Regions from separate parts of the Homo sapiens genome. Here region 2 is linked to region 1. Evidence: fine-mapped expression QTL. Tissue or cell type: whole blood. Region 1 holds a variant in brackets; the other region holds the start of a gene. All regions are shown on one strand. Distances are between the middles of the regions.

The links. PIP is the estimated chance that this variant, and not a neighbour inherited with it, causes the effect.
Region 2: C1QTNF6 starts here. The variant in region 1 is fine-mapped to the expression of C1QTNF6 in whole blood (Lepik 2017, PIP 0.90).

What each region holds. Positions count from the first base shown.
Region 1 is chr22:37,263,963-37,272,074 of GRCh38, forward strand. LOC107985576 (a long non-coding RNA gene) reads right to left here and starts at 1,595. Exons shown (of 3, transcript XR_001755534.1): 1 at 842-1,595. RefSeq lists enhancers at 3,316-3,375, 3,396-3,585. The variant C/T (reference allele first, on the strand shown) is at 4,718.
Region 2 is chr22:37,184,260-37,192,371 of GRCh38, forward strand. C1QTNF6 (C1q and TNF related 6) reads right to left here and starts at 3,988. Exons shown (of 3, transcript NM_031910.4): 1 at 3,904-3,988; 2 at 959-1,196. The coding sequence starts at 3,954. It overlaps IL2RB-AS1 (IL2RB and C1QTNF6 antisense RNA 1), which reads left to right. Exons shown (of 2, transcript NR_199008.1): 2 at 1-2,563. RefSeq lists enhancers at 3,092-3,727, 3,728-4,361, 4,362-4,997, 4,998-5,631.

The DNA.
Region 1 (8,112 bases):
AGAAAGAGATTGAACATAGGAAATTCAGCACCTACAACATCATAAGATGTACTCAGGGAGCGTGCTCCAGGGCCAGTTTCCAGAAATGACTCCCAGGACACCACAGAACTGACCAAGAGGGGCTGCCACCGAGGCCACAGCCAGGAAGGTGAGGAGTCAGGGGCCACCTCTAAACCCCCCACTGTGGCTGCCACCCAGGGGTTAGGATGCTACCACCACTGCTGTACCCGAATCTTGAGCCTCAGGAAGTCAGAGTCCAGATACTACGACACAGGGTCCAGCACTGCGTCCTCTGCTGCAACTGCTTATTGACACCCACAAGGTCACTTGCCAGCAATGACTGCCAAGAGCAGCAAGAAGACAGCTGCTTTCCAAATCTCATGGGAGCAAATCCCATTGGTAGGATCTAATTCACATCCAGAATCATAGCTGCAAGGGATCCGGGAGGAAGGGTGGCTTTAGCTTGCTAGCCTCTGCAGTATAGGAGGGTGAGGCGGGGTAGAATGGAAGGTGAGTGAGTCGACCTGGGCCCTAGCCCACTCCTACCCTGCCTCTCTGCATCACTTGGCTAGGGCCACTCCCTCCCCTTTTCAATATTTTTCCAGTTGTCTCCTTGCACTGGTTTGGGCTCCTCTGTCTCACTCCATGTGTCAGCACACTCATACTCCACTGCAGACAAGCAGCAGGGCTTGCTCGGGCAGGGCTTTGTTGATCTCACTCAGCAGGGTGTCAGGAGGCAGCCTGGGACTGGAGCTGCAGCCCAGCAGTGCCATCAGAAACCTGGGCCCTTCTGTGTTTTGGTCCCATCACCCTCAGCACTTGCTCTGCCCCTCATGCTTACCGTTGAGAGCTGCAAGTTGGCTGCACCTGCCAGCCTCACACCCACTTTCCAAGCAGCAGGGAAGGGGGCCAAACACTGCCTTCTCCTCATGAGAATTTCCTTTTATTCAGGAAGGGCCACCCTCTCCAGGGACCCTGGTTGGCCAGAAAGGTCACATGGCCATCCTTGGCTGCAAAGGAGGCTGGGAAATAACAATTTAGGTTTCAGACTCTGTAGTTAGTAGAGGAAGGAGAGCTGGAGAGGGATTGAGAATAGCTGTTGAGTGAGCCTACTTTTTAATATTTGTCATAGCCATAAAGGGAATTAGCTGGCTCACGTAACCAAGTTGTCTGGGCTTCCAGCATTGATGATGCAGAGGCCCATATGATACCATCCAGCCTCAATAGCTGTTGTTGCACATCTCCCCACTCACCTTCCTCTGCTGTGGCTTCATTCTTAGGATCCTTCTGGTACTTAGAACTCCAGATTCACATCATCTTCCCAGCTGGACATCACAACTGGAAAGGAGTTTTCTTTGTCTAGTTGTTCCAGCAAAAGTCCCAGGACTGAATCTCACTGGACTTACTCAGGTCACCAAACCACTCTTGAACGAGTTGCCATAGCCAGGCAATGGAATACCAGCTGGACCTCTGTTCCATGGGTCACGTGAGTCCTGGGCCCAAGCCCAGGTACTAAGAAAGGAATAAACTCCCCCGCTCAATGGAAAGAGGAGCACAGAATTTGCAGCCATCGGCTGGGCACAGTGGCTCAGCACTTTGGGAGGCCAAGGCGGGCGGATCACTTGAGGTCAGGAGTTTGAAACCAGCCTGGCCAACACGGTGAAACCCTGTCTCTACTAAAAATACAAAAAATTAGCCAGGCATGGTGGCACATGCCTGTAGTCTTACCTACTTGGGAGGCTGAGGCAGGAGAATGGCTTGAACCCGGGAGGTGGAGGTTGCAGTGAGCCGAGATCATGCCATTGCATTCCAGCCTGGGCGGCAGAGCGAGACTCCATCTCAAAAAAAAAAAAAAAAAAGAATTTGCAGCCATCATTAACCTACTGCCCACTAAGCTGGCTCAGCCCCCTGTAGAAACAGCACCATCACCCGCCAGTCTCCCAGGCTGGAAACCTCAAAGTCATCCTTCACTCTGCTCACCTTCACCCTCGATTTTTCACCAGGACCAGTCAGTTTCAGTATCTAATTACCTCTCACAAAGGTCCCTCACACCCCAGATCCTCTGTACCCCCAACCATCAGCACCCCTGGCCTGGGCCTTTGTAACAGCCTCCTAAGAGGCCTGTCTGCATTTAATCTGTCCATCAAGTCCTTCCTTCACATGACAGCCAGAGTGACCTTTCTAAACTGCAAATCAGGGCTCACCTTGGTTCCCGGTTCTCAGGTCTCCACCATCTGGCATGTGACCCAGAGGGAGTGAGGACACCTCTCCAAGGCTCAGCCTCACTCATAGGCAAGGCAGGCTCATAACAGAATCTCAAAGGGTTGTACTGAGGAGCACTTGGGACAAGGCATCTGGCACAAGAGACATTTCCCACCAAGGAGGGTTTCTTTCTTACCTATTGCCAATCTGAAAAAAATAAGAAGAGTAAATGGTGTTCTGGCATTCAGAGCCTCTCACCACCTGGCTCCCATTTCTCTTTTTTTTTTTTTTTTTGAGACAGAGTCTTACTCTGTGGCCCAGGCTGGAGTGCAGTGGTGAGATGTCAGCTCACTGCAACGTCCACCTCCCAGGTTCAAGCGATTCTCCTGCCTCAACCTCCCAAGTAGCTGAGATTACAGGCATGTGCCACCACACCCGACTAATTTTTGTATTTTTAGTAAGGACTAGGTTTCACCATGTTGGCCAGGCTGGTCTCAAACTCTTGACCTCAGATGATCCGCTGGCCTCGGCCTCTCAAAGCGCTGGGATTACAGGCGTGGGCACCTGGCCCATTTCTCCTTTGAGGTTCATCCCCCCTGCTTCCCGCTAAAGCCACACGCATACACTCACTCAGCGTTAAGTGCGTGCTCCTGCCCACCAGTGTACACAGAGGTCGCCCAGTCTCCACCTCTGTGGCTTGCACATGCTGTCCCCACCACCCGGTGCCCTTCCCTCTTCCAAGCCAGCTCTCCTAACCCAACCCCTACACCTGACAACCCCTTCCCCAGTTCTCCCCATGTGGAATCCATCCTTACCACTCCCGTTCATACTGTTTCAAGAACTCGTTACGTGTCAGCGGAATCATCCTGGATTGGATTGCCTCCCCCATGTGACGGGCTCCTAGGGGTCCAGCCCTGTTCCCGGCCAGAATCCAGCCCCACGGATACCTGGGTATTGGGGCTGAAGGACCCTCAGAGGTCCCCTCGTTCACAGGGGAGCCCCAGGCGGTGGGTTCTCTGAGTGCCATCCCCGCGGCGACCACGCAGGGGAGCCCGCGGGCTGGCTTTGGTCACCTAGGAAACCGACGAGGGGTGGGGCAAGGAGGGCCAGACCCCTGCCCCGACTCTGGTCTGGCTCCTCCTGTGGGCCTCGGCTCTGGAGAGCTGAGAGACCCCAGGCCCACTTCCCTCGGCCACTCGTGGCCGTGCTCTGTGCTGACTGCCTTACATGGATTATTTCATTACATTCTGCAAAACTTCCCTTGTTTGAAAAAATGAAACAAAAACAACCTTCCCTTGAGGGAGGCGTCGTCACTAACCCCGGTTTTTTTGTTTTTGTTTTCTGTTTTTCGTTTTGTTTTTGAGACGGAGTCTCACTCCATCACTCAGACTGGAGTGCAGTGGTGCGATCTCGGCTCACTGCAACCTCCACCTCCCGAGTTCAAGCGATTCTCCTGTCTCAGCCTCCTGAGTAGCTGGGATTACAGGCGCCTGCCACCATGCCCGGCTAATTTTTGTATTTTTAGCAGAGACAGGGTTTCACCTTGTTGGTCAGGCTGGTCTCGAACTCCTGATCTCAGGTGATCCACCCACCTCGGCCTCCCAAAGTGCTGGAATTACAGGCATGAGCCACCGCACCTGGTCACTAACCCTGTTTTACAGAAAAGGAAGCTGAGGCCCAGAGAGGGAAGCTCACTATAGCGGGGCAGCCAGCAGTAACGGGGAGGAGCTGGCCATGTCTGCCCAGCTTGGTGGCCTGATCTCAGGCCTGAGCCCCTCTGTGCGGGTCTCGCACTGGGTGCCTCCCAGAGCTTTCTAGGGTTTTTGGTGGCCTTTTAAAAAACTTTTCTGTAGGGCTTCATTTGTGTTGTTTTAATTGTAGTGAAATATACATAACAGAAAATGTACCATTTTTACCATTTGAAGTGTAAAGTTCAGTGACATTAAGTACATTCACAATGTGCAACTTTTTTAAGGTTGCAAAACTGAAACTCTAGCCCTACCCGGAGCAATTGGGCAAGTGAAAGAAAAAAATGGCATCCAAACTGGAAAGCAGGAAGTAAAATTGTCCCTTTTTGCAGATGACATCATCTTATATTTACAAAAACCCAAACACTCCATTCAAAAATGGTTAGGACTAATAAATTCAGTGAAGTTGCAAGACGCAAAATCAACATACAAAAATCAGAAGTGTTTCTTTACACCGGTAGGAAGCAACTTGAAAAAGAAAAAAGCAATCCCATTTATAATAGCTGCAAAAAAAAAAAAAAAACCACACTTACGAATAATTTTTTTTTTGAGACAGAGTCTCGTTCTGTTGCCCAGGCTGGAGTGCAATGGTGCGATCTCGGCTCACTGCAAGCTCCACCTCCCGGGTTCACGCCATTCTCCTGCCTCAGCCTCCCGAGTAGCTGGGACAGCAGATGCCCGCCATGACACCTGGCTAATTTTTTTTTTTTTTTTTTGTATTTTTAGTAGAGACGGGGTTTCACCGTGTTAGCCAGGATGGTCTCTAT[C/T]TCCTGACCTCGTGATCCACCCGCCTCGGCTTTCCAAAGTGCTGGGATTACAGGCGTGAGCCACCATGCCCAGCCATGAATAAATTTAACCTAAGAGGGAAAAGATCTCTATGATGAAAATTATAAAACACTGATGAGAGAAACTGAAGAGGACACAAAAACATGGAAAAATAACCCATGTTCATGGATTGGAAGAATTAATATTGTTAAAATGTCCATACCACACAAAGGGATCTACAGATTCAATATAATCTTTACCAAAATATCAATGACATTCATCACAGAAATAGAAAAAAAAAATCCTAAAATCTGTATGCAATCTGTATGGACAAAGCATTCAGGGCCTTTGAGCAAAAGGAAGAAAGCTGGAGGCATCACACTACCTGACTTCAAAACATACCACCAGGCTATAGTAACCAAAACAGCATGGTACTGGCATAAAAGTAGACACATAGGCCAGGTGCAGTGGCTCACAGCTGTATTCCCAGCACTTTGGGAGGCTGAGGCAGGAGTTCACTTGAGGTCAGAGTTCAAGACCAGCCTGGCCAACAAGGTGAAACCCCGTCTCTACTAAAACTACAAAAATTAGCCAACCATGGTGGCTTTTGCCTGTATTCCCAGCTACTTGGGAGGCTGAGGTGGGAGGATCGCTTGAACCCGGGAGGTGGAGATTGCAGTGAGCGGAGATGGCGCTGCTGCACTCCAGCCTGGGCAAGAAGTAAGACTCTGTCTCAGAAAACAAAAACAAAAACAAAAATGGACACATAGACCAATGGAACAGAATAGAAAACCCAGATATAAATCCACGTATTTACAGCCAAATGGTTTTTTACAAAGGCACCAAGAATATACACTGAGGAAAGGACAGTCTCTTCAGTAAGTGGACCAGGAAAATTGGATATCAGCATGCAGAAGAAGGAACCTAGACCCCTGTCTCCCACCACACACAAAAATCAGCTCAAAATGGATTAAAGACATAAATGTAAGACTCGAAACTAGGAAAGTACTAGAAGAAAGCATAGAGAAAATGCCTCAGGACATTGGTCTGGACAAAGTGTTTTTTTTTTTTATAAGACCTCGAAAGCACAGGCAACAAAAGCAAAAATAGACAAATGGGGAATGCAACAAGCCAAAAACATCTGCATGGCAAAGGAAACAATCCACAGAGAGAAGAGGCAACCTATAGAATGGGAGGGAATATTTGCAAACTATCCACCCAACAAAGAATTAATGTCCAGAACACAGAAGGAGCTCAAATAACTCAACAGGAAGAAAAAAAAATACAATTTTTAAATGGGCAAAAGACTTGAATAGACATTTCTCAAAAGAAGACATGCAGATAGCCAACAGATAACATGAAAAACAAATGTTCAACGTTGCCAGTCGTCAGGGAAATACAATAAAACCACAATAAGATATTATCTCACCCCAGTTAAAATTGCTATAATCAAAAAGACAGAACATGGCAAATGCTGGCAAGAATGCAGAGAAAGGGGAACTCGGCCACTGTTGGTGGGGATGTAAATCAGTACAGCTGTTATGGAAAACAGTCCGGAGCTTCCTCAAAAAACTACAACTAGCGCTACCATATGATCCTGCAATCCCACTCCTGGGTATATGTCCAAAGGAAAGAAAATCAGCATGTTGAAGAGATGTCTGTACTCCCATGTTTATTGTGTCATTATTCACAATAGCCAAGATATGGGAGCAACCTAAGTGTCTATCAGTGGATGAATAGATAAAGAAAATGTGATACATATACACAGTGGAATATTACTCAGCCATAAAAAATAATGAAATATCATCATTTGCAACAACACGGATGAGCCTGGAGGACATTATGTTAGTGAATTAAGTCAGGCGCAGGAAGACAAATTGTCTCTCATATGTAGGAGCTAAAAAGTCAATCTCACAGAGGCAGAGAGTAGAATGGAGGTCACCAGAGGATAGAAAGGGGATCGGGGAGCAGAGGGGAGGAAGAGATTGGTTAACAAGTACAAAATGACAGCCGGATAGGAGGAATGATCTCTATCGTTCTATAACACAGCAGGAAGTCTATAGCGGACGATTTTTGTATATTTCAAAATAGTTAGATGGGAAGATTTTGAAAATAGCTAGTGTTCCCCCAACACCAAGAAATGACACATGTTTGAGCCTTCAGATATTAACACCCCAGCCGACCTCAAGAAGAGCAGAGACCGGCTCTCCCAGGGGGACCCTGCCTAGACTGCGGATTCGTGAGCAAAATCAATGCTGTTTAAATCCACTAAGACGTTTCAAAGTCATTTGTTATGGAGCAGAACAGATAGGTATTCCATAAATATATGTTGAATGAATAAGGGAATAAACATTTCAGGGAAGACAGAGAAAGGAGAGGCTGCAGGGGAGACTGATGGGGGTGAGGAGGGTAGAGGGAATCAGAGAGTGAGAGTGAGTGACCTGAGGGCACACAGCAGGCTGGCGGCCAAAATTTTAAGTGTGGTGTCCCATGATGGATATCTTTATTCTGCCTTTCTTCCTTCCCTCCTCCTTTCCTTTTATATTGAGAATCTCCATCTCCCACATACACAAAAAGCTAGGAATACAAAAGTAGAAGATCAAGACCAATGAGAAAAGCAGAGGGAAATATGCCAAATGATGAGTTGTTGCTGATGAGATTCGGATTGGCCTGAGCTTCCTGGCAGCTGGGGCAAAAAGGGAAACAGGATACATTACTCAGTTCTCCTTACTGGAAAAGGAGAAGCATGTCAGTTTCTTAGCGAGATGGGTTTTCTTAACACCATGCCAGGCGAAAGCTCTTACGTGCTCTGCTGTAAGAGGCACTGGGTGACATCATGCCCTCAACAGCAAGCAAAGAAGTGGCTTCCTTGTTACTTAAAAGAACTTCTTCGCTGAAGGCCGAAGCCCAGAGCATGTCCTGACATCTTTACAGAACCTGGAGGACAGCATGGCCCTTACTGGGGTCACAGGCATCTGAGAGCATGTTTGAAATAATGATTCCAGGTCCCTCCATCGGAGAGACAGACTCAGAACTTGGGAGTCTATATCTTAACAGATACCCCAGGTGAGGCTGGTGTGTATCCAGGTTTGAGTTTCCCTCCCTAAGATCATCTTTCCTAAATCTCAAGAAAACACAGCCAGCCCCTGTCTTCTGCCTTTGCTCCCTCTGATCTTCCCAAGCTGCTGAGACATTCCACGGTATCCGCATTTTACAGATGGAAAGGCTGAGCCTGACTGATGCTGCTGCAGCTCACGGGTGGAGGCACTGAGGTTCAAAGCCAGGGTGACTCATTGGAATCCAAGGAGCTGCTGGCTGACACCAGAAAGAAGCTAGTCCTCCCAGCACTTTGGGAGGCTGAGGCGGACAGATTACCTGAGGTCAGGAGTTCGAGACC
Region 2 (8,112 bases), 80 kb before region 1:
CCATCCCTGACAGCTGTGTGGCCCCAGGAGACTGGGTTTCCCCATCTGCAAAGTGGGAGGAATAAGAAAATATCGACCTCACGGGCTGTTGTGGGCAGAGACGGACGCTAAGGATGTCAAGGCCTGGTCACAGCCGTCAGCCACCACAGCCTGGAAGGGAAGCGAGTCCTTCCACGTCCTATTGAGAGAGCGGGTAGCCAGCCCGCACCTGGACGGCCCTCACCTGGATGCCTTTCACCTGGACGGGCCCTCACCTGGACAGCCCTCACCTGGACAGCCCTCACCTGGATGGCCCTCACCTGGACAGGCCCCACAGGGCTGCATGCTCCGACCCTCGGCCCCCGCTGGTTGCTCTCCACATGACATTAGAGGGATCCATTTGAAACCTGGGTGGGATCAAGTCCCTGTCCCACCCAAACCTGCCCCTGTTCCCACTCCACTCAGCGGAGCCCAAGTCCCTACAGTAGCCGGGTGGTGACAGCACCCCATGTGATCTGAGCCTGGTGCATCTCCCGGCCCTGCCCCAGGGCCCCTGCACCAGCTGTGCCCTTTGCCAGGAGGCTCCTCCACCACCTCTTAGAAGCCTGTGCTCCATGGGTCCTCCACTGACCACCTCATTCAATATGCAGCCTGCAGCCCAGACCCGCACTCCTGAAGCCCCTTTTCATTTCCCAGAGCACTGATCACCATCGAACATTCCACTCCACTAACTTAGGTGATGTGTGCCTTGCTCACAGCCCATCTCCCCACCGAGAACGGGTGCTCAGGCAGGAGGCATCTTGGTCTGGTTTGTTCACGCTCCGTCATCAGTGTTTGGAACAGACCAGGCTCACATTGGGGCTCAATAACTCAGGATGAAAGAGGAGTCTGGACAGGTTTCCGCCCTGCCCTCTACTCCCTCCACCTCAGCTCCCTGGCCCTCCCTGCCCACTACCAGGCCCCACAGGAGGGCACTCACCCTTCAGGATGGTGATATTAATGTAGGGTCTGATCTCAGGCAGGGCGTGGGGGCGGCCGGAGGAAGAGGCTGAGGATACATGGGCAGGATCCAGGGGGTCCTCAGAGTCACAGCACCGTTGGCAGCCGCTGGCCACAGCTCTGTCAAAGGTGAGCTCCACCATAGGGATCTCACACATCAGGAGAAAGAGCAGGAGCGCTGCCCAGACGGGACCCAGGGCGGCTGTCCCCATGGTGACCTGGAACAAGGAAGGAGGGACAGGAACTATACTTCACTCAACATCTACTATGTGCCGATGCCTGGGGTGGGCGGGTGCTGCGTCCTCCAGCCACAGCACTCCTGACCTAACTCCAGAGGGAAGGTTATTGTCCCCATCTATCAGACAAGAAGACTGAGACCTCCACAGAGCAGCAAGTTCCCCAAGATCGGGAGGAGACTGGCAGGGCAGGGCCTGCATGCTGAGTCTCCGGGCACCCAGTCCATGGAGGCTTCTGCTCCACACAGGCCTTGGAAGGATGAAGCCCCTCTGAAAACAGCCACAGCTGAGAGCAGACAGGGATCCCAGGAAGCTTTGCTGGGGCAGGTGAGAAGATGCCCCAGCTGGCCATGGGTGGCAACCCAGGAGACCGTCAGATGCTTTCCCGCCCGCGCACCTCCCTCTGGCACTTTCTTGCCACCGACTCCACTATCTCCAGCAAACACATGCCCTCCGGGCAGGAGGACTGAGGTTAGTGAACACTGGGGACAAACGTGGAGGGTTCTGGAGGCTTGTTCTCAGGAGAGGGGATGGGTGGCCGAGCCCATGCTTTGGTGTGAGAACACCATAGTTCTGAAAAAAAAGAGATAAGAGAGTTCATTGATCCTAGCAGACAGAAAGCAACGTCCATGAGAGCATGTGGGGTGGTGCGCGGTGATGGTGTCATTGCATCGCTGAGCAGTCAGGAGAAGGAATACTGGGTCCTTGACTGCAGCCCATTGCTAGTCTTTAGAGTGCCTTTGTGCAAAGCAAAGAAGGTGCCCCTCTGGACAAATTAGAAATGATAAGAGTCCCCGTTGGAGGGACGTGATGCTGAGGGTGTGCAGCTTGGCAAGGGCTGGCGCTAGTCCACCTCCCTGCTCAGCACCTTTGTGCAGTCAACTATCTATGCAACCCAACCTTATCCAGAAGCCCTGCAGGGAGGGTTCTGTAGAGAGAGTTAGTTCATTGGAAGATGGTTGTGTCAATCATCGTAGACCTGCCAATCAGATGCCAAGGTGGTAAATTGGAATTAAGGGGTAGGACTAGGAGGTATAAAAAATTCTAAAGGATCAGAAAAGTGTAAGTGTTGGTGAGGATCTGTCTCTGGCCTTGGCCAAGAAGGGGTCTAGGGCTCCAGGAGAGAGGCAGGAAGTAGCCTGGACACCAGGCGCTAGAGACAGTCCTGGGTTGGGTGGGCAGGAAGCCGGGCAAAAAGACCTTTGAGGTGGTGCAGCTTCTGGGGGCTGGTGCCGAGTTATCACAGGATCAGAAACTCTGCTTTTGAAACCAGACTGGTTTTTACACTTCTGGCGTTTCTTTGTTTATTTCCTTTTTGTTCTCCTTTAACATTTAGTAGAATTCAAAAATATTTTTTTTGTGGTTAATACATGTAGACAAGGTACAATTATTACTTTTTAAAATGCCACCCTGTCTCAGCTGAGCACTGAGGTGAGGGCAGAGTTTTAAAGGGGCAGGATGGCCAGGTGCAGTGACTTACTCCTGCAATCCCAGCACTTTGGGAGGCCACGGAGAGAGGATCACTCGAGTCCCGGAGTTCGAGACCAGTCTGGGCAACATAGTGAGACCCTGTCTCTATTTTTCAAAAATTAAAACTAAAAATAAATAAAGCGGCAGGAGCCCTGCCCCCCACCCCCAGAGCTGGATGGTAGCAGCAGGAGAAGGGGGCTGGACAGGAAGTCTCCAGAGCCACCTCCCTCTTCCTGGAGGTGACTCTTCCCAAGCTTCTCTCTGCCCACCCTGGTTGGGTTCCTGGTTCTGCTCAATAAGGAGGTCAAATCCTCAGAGATCAACATCCTCCCTGTCTGAGACTGTCATCCTCAACTTTTACTTATAAATGACAAATCCCAGTGGTTTTGGAAATCCCAAAATTCCCTTCTTTTTCCCAGCCACAGATATGACCTCATGAGAAAAGCTGAGGTCTTAGAGTCAAATCTGAGACCCAGAATAGTTTGCAAGCTGTGTGACCTAGGGCTAGTGGCTGAACCTCTCTGGGCTTCCTGCTCCTTGATACTTACAAGGAAATGACACCACCCTTTCCCTCCCAGGTAATTTGGAAGGATTTCAATGCAGGAAAAGTGCCTGCCTTATAAAAGACTTAAAAAAAAAAAAAAAAGTGTGCTTTGACTTCTTCCCTGTGCCTGCATGGGATGGGAAGGAGAACTTCTCCCAGAGGACTGGCATGGTTTGGGAGCATTTCTGTTTCCTATTGGCCCCAGCGGATGGGAGTCAAAGGCTGTGAGACACAGAACCGTGGCCTGGGAGCAGGAATCAGGAAGCCGTTAACGAGGAATCATAACCACAGCCAGGATCACGAACTAGCTCTGGGGGTGGGTGCCAGGCAGGGACCAAGTGTGGGAACCAAGTCATAGGGAGGACTTTTGGGGTCCTTGCTGCTTCCACTGGGACCTCTTTGGGGAGGGAGCGGCAGGGCAACTTTTCTCGGTCCAGGCAGGCCGTGCAGAGCTGAGTTTGTGTGTGCCCGGGTAGGGGCGGGCACAAACCGGGAGCAGTGGAGCGCAGCCCTCAGCCAGAGGCAGGAGGAAATGTGGAGGGGAGAGCCTGGAGAGGCTGTCCCAGTCAGAGGGAGAGAGCAGGGCCCGAGATGCTTCCAGGAAGCAAGGAGGGAGGAGAGGAATTCCAGGCTCTGACCCCAGCCCCCAAGCTTGAGGAGCCTCTGGTCACTCACCCTGTGTCCTGTGGCCTCCCCAGGCGACTCACGGACCCTGAGCCACTGCATGGCCTCTGGCTCCTTGGCCCATGTCTGCAATACTAACTTGTTGCTGGCCCAGACCCCCAGGCCCAGCAGAGGAGGGAGAGAGGAGGGGATGGAGGGAGAGAGGGCGGAGGGAGGGCGGAGGGAGAGGGCAGAGCCGCTTCCCACTTCCCCTCCTCCCTGCTCCCTCCCTTTCAGCCTCTGGGTTCTGCGGAGATAAAGGGAGGCAGGGATTTCCTTTGCTTAACTCTTTGGTGATCCAGTGGGGTCTTGCTTGATTCAAAGGCCTAGAAAGTCAGAGCAGGCAGGAGTCTGAGGCCCCCTGATGATTGGGAAATGGACACAGGCATGGGGCACAGGAGCCCCTAGGTTGCTCAGGAAGGGGGAGGCAGCCCTGAGTCCACCCTGAGCTAAAGTGCTTAACTGCTCTGAGTCACAGAGGCAGGGTGGGTAGCAGAGAAGGTGCAGGTGTTGGCCCTCCAGGCACAGGCTAGAATCCTGGCCCTGCTACCACAGTCGCGTCGCCTCTCAGAGCCTAGGTGTTCCAGAACTGCAGTCCTCAGCCCCCTTTGTGCCAGGCACATGGGAGGGCTTAACCCATGTTTGTTGGGTGAATGACCAGGCTGACCTCCTCAGGTATCATGCAAGTGTTACCAGAGAGGGGTACTGATCAGACCCCAAGAGAGAATTCTTGGATCTTGCACCAGAAAGAATTTGGGGTAAGTCCACAGAGCAAAGTGAAAGCAAGTTTATTAGAGAAGCAAAGAAACAAAAGAATGGCTACTCCATAGGCAGAGCACCCCCAAGCACTGCTAGTTGGCTATTTTTATAGTTATTTCTTGATCCTATGCTAAACAGGGGTGGATTATTCATGAGTTTTCCAGGAAAGGGGTGGGAATTTCCTGAAACTGAGGCTTCCTCCCCCTTTTAGACAATATAGGGTAATTTCCGGACATTGCCATGGTATTTGTAGGCTGTCTTGGTGCTGGTAGAAGTGTGTTTTAGCAAGCTAACACATTTTAATTAACATACAATGAGCAATAAGGATGACCAGATGTCACTTTCATTGCAATCTTAGATTTGGCAGGTTTTGGCTGGTTTGTTTACCGCATACTGTTTCTCAGCAGGGTCTTGATGACCTGTATCTTGTGATACCAGTCCTGCCAACTTCCTATCCCTTCCTGTGACTACAAATGCCTGACCTCCTGGGAATGCAGCCTGGCAGGTCTTAGCCTCATTTTACCCAGCCCCTATTCAAGATGGAGTTGCCCTATTTTGAACACCTCTGACATATTTCCCTACTCTCTTTTACGAGGGAACGTTTAATCTTAAGGGTTGTAGAGGCATGAAGATCCATCTTCTGTAACTTCTTCAGGCTGAATAGAGGCGATGATATTCCTGCCTAACTATTAGAGTCTCTTGGGTTTGGTGCAGAGAGGAACTGAGTAAGAAAATGTTGGTGTGTTCAGAGTCATTTGTAACTCTGAGTCCTAACAAAAGGTGATATCTGGAAGATTAATGTGTTCAATTTAAGGAAGCACTGAGTAAGCTTATCTTGCATTCTTACACAAAGAGTATAGCAGCAATATATTCTACAACAGCAAAGTAAAATAAGTAAAATTATCCCAAGTAATCCAAATAAGAAGGCTTTCCATGAACTGGGCAAGAATGCCTGTGACTTATCGGGTAAAATGAGGCTGAGACCTACTGGGCTGCATTCCCAGGAGGTTAGGCATTCTTAGTCACAGGAATTGCTAGATGAGCTGATACGGAGTTGCTAGACGATTCCAATACATGCTCAGAATTAGATACTGATCCAGATTTTTATGTTATCCATCCCTCTTGTTTCTGACGAGAAGCAGTCAAGAGATGACTGTTTGGTTCACAGAAAGAAGCAAGGTCAGTCTAAATTGCAGACAAAAAACTCAAAAACAATGGATGAGACTAGAATCTATGACAGGTGTACCATATTTTTTGAAACACCGTTTTTCTCTCTCCAGTCTCCCATTTTTTATTAAAAACAAATCATGGTAGGACCAATTTATTTGCAAAATAAGCTTTAGTCTTATTATACTTGGCTTCATTATTTGCATAAAGTGCAGCAAGTATAATTATTTGCCATACAGGCTCCTTTTAAAATTGGCTTTGTTTCATAAGGTATCTTAGATTAGATGTTTTAAAGCTTTGAGCCCAGCCATGGATTTACCTATGCCTGCAAGAACCTGTATGAGTTAGATAAATTCCTCTCCTCTTGAGGTCCCGAGATAACTCGGGGCTCCCAGGCCTGTCAGAAAGTTACATTCTTTACTTACCACAGGTCAGGAACCCTATACAGGGACTTCATACACAAGGTACAAGACCAGTTTTTCCAAGAGGCTTTTATTGGCTCTATTAGTCAACTTTAATTCCTTAAAGAAGTCTGTTTATATTTGAAAGCATGCCACTCGAGTCAAACCCTTGTTAAATAACCAGTTTCTCCAATTGTGTCCTGTTACAAAAAAAAAAAAAGAAGAAAGAAGGAAAAACAGATTCTTACTGCACTTATGCAAATAACTATATTGCCGTAAGTTAAGAACACTCACAAATAGTTTCCAAATTCTGCAGAAATCAGGTAAAGAGAAAAAAACATATTCCAAATTTTGTTTTTGGACAAAACTTTGTTTTATAATCCTTACCGGAGCGTACTTTACTCAATTGTTAAAAGCTGTAAATAGCTCAAGAAGGGGGGGTTTCTTGACTCTGAAAAACAAAACAGAAAGATCAACAACATTTTAAGCAAAAAGTCATAAAAGATTATTTCAGTCTTTTATTAGTTCAGTCTATGCAATTAATTCCTGTTTTGCTTGATATATATGTGTTAGTTTTCCAAGAGTCTTGGATGATGTTTTCTTTTTCTCTGCATTTAAGAGTACTCATCAGAGTCCTATAGCTGATTATAAACCACCTTTTGAAGAGAATAAAAGCAAGACAACAATTGTCTATGGATGACAGAAAGACTTAGAGCAGTCATGGTTAAAGAATTAATATCATTGACTAGGAAATGTGGATACCTCTGTGGCATATAATAAATTAACATCATAACAATTATAATTATTATTGATAATGTCCATTAGTATTGATAATGTTCATATCAGAATTATAGGAGTTTCCCATAATTTTGGAACACATACCAATAACATATTTATATAAACACAGCCCAAAGAAAGCCAAACACAATTTCATATTTGACAATGCTTCCTGTATTATTTTAATGTACCAAATAAGCCAAATATGTCATTTTTGGACTTTAGGGGACCTAATATCTAAAGGACTAATCAGGTTAGAAAAAGGCATAACTTAGAATTTGATTTTGGAAAGTTTGTCAAATATCAAAAATTTAAAACATTTGATACTACAAAATAGCATCCCAGGTCACCATAAGTCATTTATTTGGCCAAAATGATAACTCAAAGATGTTTTTAAGGGCAAAAACCTTTACTCACCGATAAAGGGAAGACTTAGCTTTCCAAAAAAAACTGTCTCTTTTCGTTCCTTTCTTTTTTCTATAGCTTATTCAAAAGGCAAACAAAAATCTTTAATTATTTTTCAATATTACATGAAAAACTTGTTCAAGAGAGAAAGCCAAATTTTACCTTTGCATTTGTGTACTATTAATGTCAAACCCAATTCATAATAAAGCCTTATAGACAACTCTATCCAATTTTAATGTTTGACCATGAGGTAAGAGTCTCATAAACCTTTTATAGCTCTTTACAATTTTCTTGTTAAAGAGTATACCAGTGCTCTAAGAAAACCTTGTTATACTTTTATTCCATATTTAATTTATGGAAAAACTGAATAATATCCCTTTAATTTAAGCCAATAAGTTCACACAGAATTTCTTTTACAAGATTAATCTTTCACAAACCTTCCATAACTTGCTCAAACCTTCAGCTTTATCCTACCTAACTTGAAACAATCCTTTAACCCTCTAAAGTAGGGGGAAAGTCCACATTCCCATGCTTTCTTATAATCTTCTTACCAAAAGCATATTCAATTTTCCTTACACACCTTGCATATAAAACTGTTTCTCTAGTAGTCTCAATTACATATAACATATTACGATGTTAACTCTTAGCAACTTTTATTTTTTGGTGAAAAACCTGGTAAGTAAGCAGTTTTACTTATATTCCAGGTGTGGAG